2 linked regions of the Homo sapiens genome follow. The protein of the gene in region 2 interacts with the protein of the main gene of each other region in a biochemical or structural test. Each region holds a gene or a part of one and is shown on either strand. Other genes may lie near its edges.

Region 1 (3,834 bases), on a different chromosome or scaffold from region 2:
GATAGAAAAAAATGCAATATGCATTTCAAAAATTAAAGAATTTTTTAAACTATTTTCTATTTGCGGATGTCATGCCAATCTTCTGCTCTCTTGGTGCAGAAAATTACAATATTATTACATAAACAACGTCAGATCAGACAACAGGATGAGGGGGCATTTGTGTTCAATAAGCCCTCTCTTCTTTAACATGATCACAAGCATGTAACAATCTCATATGATGTTATACTCAAAATGCAGGAAAACAAGTTGAAAAACAAAGTTGTTAAACCCTAAGCATTTAAGATCCTTTCCTTACATAATATTCTTCAGCAGCTGAAGGGTATTTCTCTGGGGAGAAGAGCTATTTCTGGCGAAATAATATACAAACGTGTGTGTGTGTGTGTGTGTGTGTGTGTGTGTGTGTGTGTGTGTTTGTCAGTATATTTTACACATAACTTTCTTCATAATAAAGTTTAATTTCTTATTCAATCATCTCTGCAGTGATACAGAGAATTTTTTAAATAAACAGGTATAAATAGTTTCAATTAGAAATGGTATAACTTTATCTTTAGTTAGTATTATAGTTTTAATGATCCTTACATAATACAGCAAAAGTGTGTTTGAAAACTTGGCCTAATTCATCTCAGTGGTTCAAAACATTTGTGGTCTGTAATTTATACTTTCCAACTTACTGATAAATCAGTAAACGTGAGAGCTATTTTAACTTCTTGAAGTCTAGACTTCAGAAAATTTTAAATGCACAGATTGAGTTATTAATAGGAGTTGTGGCAATTTTCAGGAGTTCACTTTTTTGAGGGCTCACTGTGTGCCAGGCCTTGTGGCAAACAGCTTCTTTATGTGTGTTATCTTATTTACTTTTCAAATTGAGCCTTGTGCATAAGGGAGGATTCTTAGGCTCCGTTTACAAATGAAGAAACTGGCTCACAGAAAAGTCAAGTAACCTGCCCAAGATCATAGACCTATCAGAGAGGAGGGGAGACCAGACCTGGAACCCAGATTCACCTGTTGACAAAGCCTAGTTTCTTCCACTCATAACTGTTTAATTTCAAGTTATAACTTCCCAAGTATATTGTAGTCTCTTAGAAAATAAGCATCATGTTTTTTAATCTCCCACGATACCAATACTCATATTGGTATCATTTGGTAAATAATTGTTCATTTAATTATTTTACCTACTTTTGATATGCTAAGATTTCACATAGTCACTAAAAGTTTGACATAATTCTTCAACTTTTTTATCTTTCTCCCAAAGTCATACAACTCTGCAAAATGATGGCTAAACAGGACTGGGACCAAAATTCTCTAAAGCTTTCTTAATGATCCATGAACAATTTTGGATTGGAGCTTTAGAGATTTAAACCTTATGAATACTTAATAATGTATAATTTGCTCTTTTATAAAACCAGCCTAAATTTCAAATACCTCCTTGACACCCCCAGAAGCAAAAATAAATACAACTATACCTCAGCACTCCAAGAACCTGTTTCTGTCTGGGACACTCGGTATGTATAAATGTAACCGTGATACCTGTGAAAGAATAAACTTCCATTACTGAAAGATTCCAAAAGAACAATGGATACTTTAAATTTGAGCTTAATATTACATATAAATGTCACATATACTAGGACACACGTATATGGTGTCATTGCATTCATAGGAAGTAAAGCATAGTGAATCTAACTTGTCTCCATATTGTATCTGCCCAACCACAGTTTCCAGTGAGATTTCTTTATCTTTTCATTTTTTGAAATATGGAAATTCATGCTCCTAAAGATTTGTCAAGTTGAGAGACCATTTGGACAGAAAGAAACTACAACAGGGACCTGTTGTAATTGATAAAACCATGAATTATTAGATAGTTTTAACAAACAATAGACTTATTTTTAAGTACATATCGAAACTTAAGGTGAAAACATTTCACTGGGATAATACACTATCAGGCCCACATAAATAATTATTAATATTAATAATATTTGTTATAAATATAATGGCAATAGTATAAGGATATAATACTATAAATTGAATATAACTATATTTTTATAAAATTACTATTATAATGTATAGCAATATAATATTGCCACAGTCATGCATCACTTACCAAGGGGGATACATTATGAGAAGTGCATCATTAGGTGATTTCGTTGTTGTGCAAACATCATAGACTGTACTTACACAAACCTATATGGTATACCACCTAGGCTATGTGGTATAGCCTATTACTCCAGGCTACAAACCTGTACAGCATGTTACTGTACAGAATACTGTATGCAATTGTAACATAATGGTATTTGTGTATCTAAACCTATCTAAACATAGAAAAGGCACAGTAAAATATAGTATAAAAGATAAAGAATGCTATACCTGTTGAGAGTACTTACCATGAATGGAGCTTGCAGGACTGGAAATTGCTCTGGGTGAGTCAATGAGTGAGTGGTGAGTGAATGTGAAGGCCTAGGACATTACACTACTAGAATGTTATGAACACTGTAAACTTAGGCTACACTAAATTTATTTTAAAATATTTATATTTCCCAGATCACGAGGTCAGGAGATCGAGACCATCCTGGTTAACACAACGAAACCCCATCTCTACTAAAAATACAAAAACTTAGCCAGGCATGGTGGCACGCACCTGTAGTCCCAGCTACTTGGGAGGCTGAGGCACTGAGGCAGGAGAATCGCTTGAACTCAGGAGGCGGAGGTTGCAGTGAGACGAGATCACGCCACTGCACTCCAGCCTGGGTGACGGAGCGAGATTGTCTCAAAAAAAAAAAACTGTATCGCTTCAATAATAAATTAATCTTAGCTTCAACTCTTTTACTTTATAAACTTGTAAATTTTTTTAAACTTTTTGACTCTTTTATAACACTTCGCTTAAAACACAAACACATTGTACAGCTGTACAAAACTGTTTTTCTTTATATCCTTATTCCATAAGCTTTTCTCTGTTTCAAAATTTTTATTTTATGTATTCTTTGCTATTTAAACTTTTTTGTTAAAAACTAAAACACAAATACGCACATTAGCCTAGGCCTACAGAGAGGGTCAGGATCATCAGTATCACTGTCTTCCACCTCCACATCTTATCCCACTGCAGGATCTTCAGGTGCAGTCACACACACGGAGCTGTCATCTCCTATGATATTCATATTCCAGAATGCCTTCTGGAATACCTCCTGAGGGACCTGCCCGAGGCTGTTTTACAGCTAACTTTTTTTTATATAAGTAGGAGTAGATTTTAAAATAATGATAAAATGTATAGTACAGTAAATACATAAACCAGTAACACAGTAATTTGTTATCATTATCAAGTATTGTGTACTGTATGTAATTGTCTGTGCTATACATTTTTTTCTTTTTCTTTTTCTTTCTTTTTTTTTTTTTTTTTTTTTTTTTTGAGATAGAGTCTCGCTCTGTTGCCCAGGCTGGAGTGCAGTGGTGCAATCTCAGCTCACTGCAACCTCCGCCTCCCGGGTTCAAGCAATTCTGTTTCAGCCTCCCGAGTAGCTGAGGCTACAGGTGCATGCCACCATGGCTGGCTAATTTTTGTATTTTTAGTAGAGACAGAATTTCACCATATTGGTCAGGCTGGTCTTGAACTCCTGACCTCAGGTGATCCACCCACCTCAGCCTCCCACAGTGCTGGGATTATAGGTGCGAGCCATCACACCTGGCCTGTGCTATACTATTATACAGCTGACAGCACAGTCGGTTTGTTTATACCAGTGTCATCACAAATACATAAGTAATTCATTGTGCTGTGGCATTACAATGGCTACAACATCAGTAGGTGGTAGGAATTTTTCAGCTCCATTATAATCTTATGGGACCACC
Region 2 (3,834 bases):
AGAGTACACATAAAAGGAGAATGGGGGGAAAAAGAAAGGTGATAGCTTTGGGGCCTGTGAAGGAAAATCTTACCCACTCCTGGAAACAAGTTACTTGCTGGTGAAAATAGCCCAGGCACCTTTTGGTTTCAAGTTGTTGTAGGCTGGATTAGTTAAATGATACATACACAGATGAGGAGGGGGCCATCAGTCTTTTGTTAATGCCCTCTGGGGCCCTCGCCTTACACCTGTTGCTGTCAAGGTGCTTAACTGATCATTCCTATAGCTAACATATGGAAAAAATCAGTCTTGGTCTCTCAGCAGTATTAAGAACAAGACTAGAAAAAAGGGTCAAACTGAATATTTCCCAGCAGGTTTTTACTAAATCATACATGCAAACCAATAGTCAGGCCAGGGATTCTTATGAACCCAAACTTTGGTGAGGCATTGTGTTGACACATGGGAAGAAGCCCTTTCAGAACTGGCTCAGGACCCAAAAGGAAGCAAAGGAAAGGTTAGTTCAGAGAATATTTTGATATTTTGGGTTTTTTTAAAAAAAACGTTTAGTCTTTTGTAACCTTAAATTGTTCTTAGGAAAAAAAAATTTAGCTTCATGATCAGAAAGCAACATGTTAGAGTCAAGCTTACAGTTTACAAGGAAGGGAGCTCAATAGATCTGCAAGATAGACCCTCTCTTATAACATTTATTTTGTGTCCAAGCTCCATTCAGTTGAGTACAAGTCTACTGGCAGGGGTTATCTATTGTGTTAAAACAATTGCTAAGCTATAGAGTATTAAAATCTAATACTGAACAAAATCTGGGAGTAAATAAATTCTAGTTAAATATAATTCTTTCTTTTTTTTTTTTTTTTTTTGAGATAGGGTTCGCTTTGTCACCCAGGCTGGAGTGCAGTGGTGCAATCTCGGCTCACTGCAACCTCCACCTCCTGGGTTCAAATGATTCTCCTGCCCCAGCCTCCTGAGTAGCTGGGAGGTGCGCACCACTATGCCTGGCTAATTTTTGTATTTTTGGGGTTTCGCCATGTTGGCCAGGCTGGTCTTGAACTCCTGATCTCAGGTGTTCAGCCCGCCTCGGCCTCCCAAAGTGCTGGGATTACAGGCATGAGCCACCGCACCCGGTCTGGTTAAATAGAATTCTGTGAAAGAATAAACTTGAGAAGCTAACAAAAATTTATATTACTTTTGTACTCCAAATGAGAGAATGGCAAGCAGACTGGCTTCTGTCTTCATGGAGCTTATAGTGGTATTTACAAAACAGACAACAAACAAAAGGCATGTTTCAACCAAAGGCCACAGAAAGGGAGAGGAATGAGGATTTTGGGAGTTTCATTTATGCTTGATTCATTGTCTTGTGATATTCTGTGTTTGAAGAGAGGCAGCCCAGCACGAGGAAGTGGAATGCGGGTGGGAACACAGTCTGCGGAATCAGAAAGACATGAGATTGACCCCAGCCTTGTTTAGTCATGTTATGCCTTTGGGCAAGTTACCTAACCTCTCTGAGCTTTAGTTTACTCATAGAATTCCTATTCATGGCTTGAGAGGAATAAACGGCATAATGTGTATGTGGTATATAGCAAGTCCTCAATAAATGATGAATATTTTTAACAGTTAATACATTGGGCAAAGATGATGAGATGGAGGGTATATCTGGGGAAGAGGTTTAAAGAATTGGATGAGAACCTGGAAAGGAAGAAATGAGGTAGAAGGCTATGAAAACAGTATTAGTTTAAAAGGCATATAGAGTTATTAGATGAATGTTTGTTAATTTGAACACTAGTATAATTACTTCTAACAAGAAAAAATAGTCTTTTTGGAGTCTCTGCATTCACTGAGCAAGGCATTTCATTTTGCTCCCGTCAATAACTATTAAATCTTAGTGAATAAATATTTAGTAATAGAATCTCATTTTTTCTAAAGCATAGAATCTCTCTTCTTTCCCATTTTATTACAAGCAAATAAATAATTTTCTAATTATACCATGCAGCAAATAATTTATCTGGAAGCCCTGTTATATGAAAATTCATGCCTAGTCAGGTGTGTTTAGGGCATTTTTTGTTGGAGTTCATGTAAAAACTCCAATCTCAAAAAATTTTAGGGTCTGTAGCAGCACACTAAGAAGCATTTTCCCTGGAAGTTGCCAATCTAAGCAGCTGTGGCCAATCATAATCCAGAGCAAATCCATTGGCCACATTTATTTATTTCTTCCAGGTTGACAGGTAATGGGGAAAGCAAATGCACTCTGGAAACAATGACCTTCGAAAACTGCCTTTGATAATACCAGTGTCTTGGGATAACAGCCATCTATACTGGCTTTGCAGCCTCTCCACCTCTGCTTGGCTGAGTCAGATGCCTTCGCTTGGCTTCAGCCAGTAGGAGATGGCAAAATCTGGGGGCACTTGTGACCTAGTGCCACTTGGGTGCCGCCTACTGCTCTCTACCAGCCTTTGCTGTAGGGAAGGAGGCATCTGAGCGCAGAAATTTCATGGACTTCTGGTGGGAAACCTCTCTTCCAACAATCATTGTTTGACTCTGGCATCATAAATCACAAATACATTTCTATATTACAAACAGAAGTAAGTAAAATGCAGTTTCATGATTCCTAGAATAATATAGTATAATATAAAATGATTTATACTATAAGATGATCAGAATATCATGGGGCTGGTGATAAAATTTTAATGCTAATAAAAGTAATAAAATTATAGACAATGCTCACTTATTTTGATACTATTATATGTCAAATTCTGTATTAAGCACTTACAACGAATCTCATGTAGTGATTATAATGTGCTGGCGAAGTAGGTGGTATTATACTCGTTTTTTCAAATGAAGAAAGACATACACGGAAAGAGGTAAAGCGAAGGTCACATAGCTAGTACATTAGTCATGCTTAAACCCCAGGTCCACTGACTTTGAAGTCTACATTATATGGCAAACAACTCTCATGCTAGGCTCTGTACCATTAATAACATTACTAATAGATAACCTGGCAACTCTGCACATTGGTTTAAAATGGGTTCATTAAACTGCTGTATCTAATTCATGGGACATTATAAGTAATAAAAGACATAAACATTTTGAAAGTCCTTTGAAAAAAGTTAAAATCCCATGTACATATTAGTAATAATATGTATACATACACAGATGGTGCCCTATTTATGACAGTTCAAATTAATGATTACTTGACTTTATGATGGTACAAAAGCAATATGCATTCAGTAGAAACCATGGTACAGTATTCAATAAATTACATGAGATAGTCAACACTTTATTATAAAATAGGCTTTGTGTGAGATGATTTTGCCCAATTGTAGGCTAATGTAAGTGTTCAGAGCATGTTTAAGGTGGGCTAGGCTAAGCTATGACATTTGGTAGTTAGGTATATTAAACGTGTTTTCAGTTTATAATATTTCCAACTTAAGAATGTTTATAAGGATGTAACCCGATCACAAGTCAAGGAATATCTGCATATATATTCTATATAAATAAATAATACACTTATGCTTTAAACATAAACATGCAAACATACATACAGGGGCACGATGGTACATGGAGAAAGTATTAAACTTGCAATCTGAAGACTTGGATTTTAGCCTCAGATATATGATTTGGTTATGTCACATCTCAACACTCATTTGTGAAATGGGGGCGATAATTACACTTAATAAAGAATTTTCCCATCTAAAGACTGTACGTACAATATACCACATGTTTATGTATACGTATATGTATATTATTATTTAATTATTTAATAATTATTTATTTTCTACTTACATACTCCAGAATTATAAAAAATAGAATTTCAGAATTTTAAAAAATTTTGCTACAACAGAA

Evidence for each region.
Region 1: the proteins of FYB1 (region 2) and SH2D1A form a complex in vitro, tested with the Homo sapiens proteins (one study listed by IntAct).

Annotation. Positions count from the first base shown.
Region 1 is NC_000023.11:124,363,454-124,367,287, reverse strand, and holds part of SH2D1A (SH2 domain-containing protein 1A), read right to left. Parts: intron 1,528-3,834; coding exon 1,464-1,527; intron 1-1,463.
Region 2 is NC_000005.10:39,195,374-39,199,207, forward strand, and holds part of FYB1 (FYN-binding protein 1), read right to left. Parts: intron 1-3,834. UniProt on the Homo sapiens protein: Acts as an adapter protein of the FYN and LCP2 signaling cascades in T-cells. May play a role in linking T-cell signaling to remodeling of the actin cytoskeleton. Modulates the expression of IL2. Involved in platelet activation.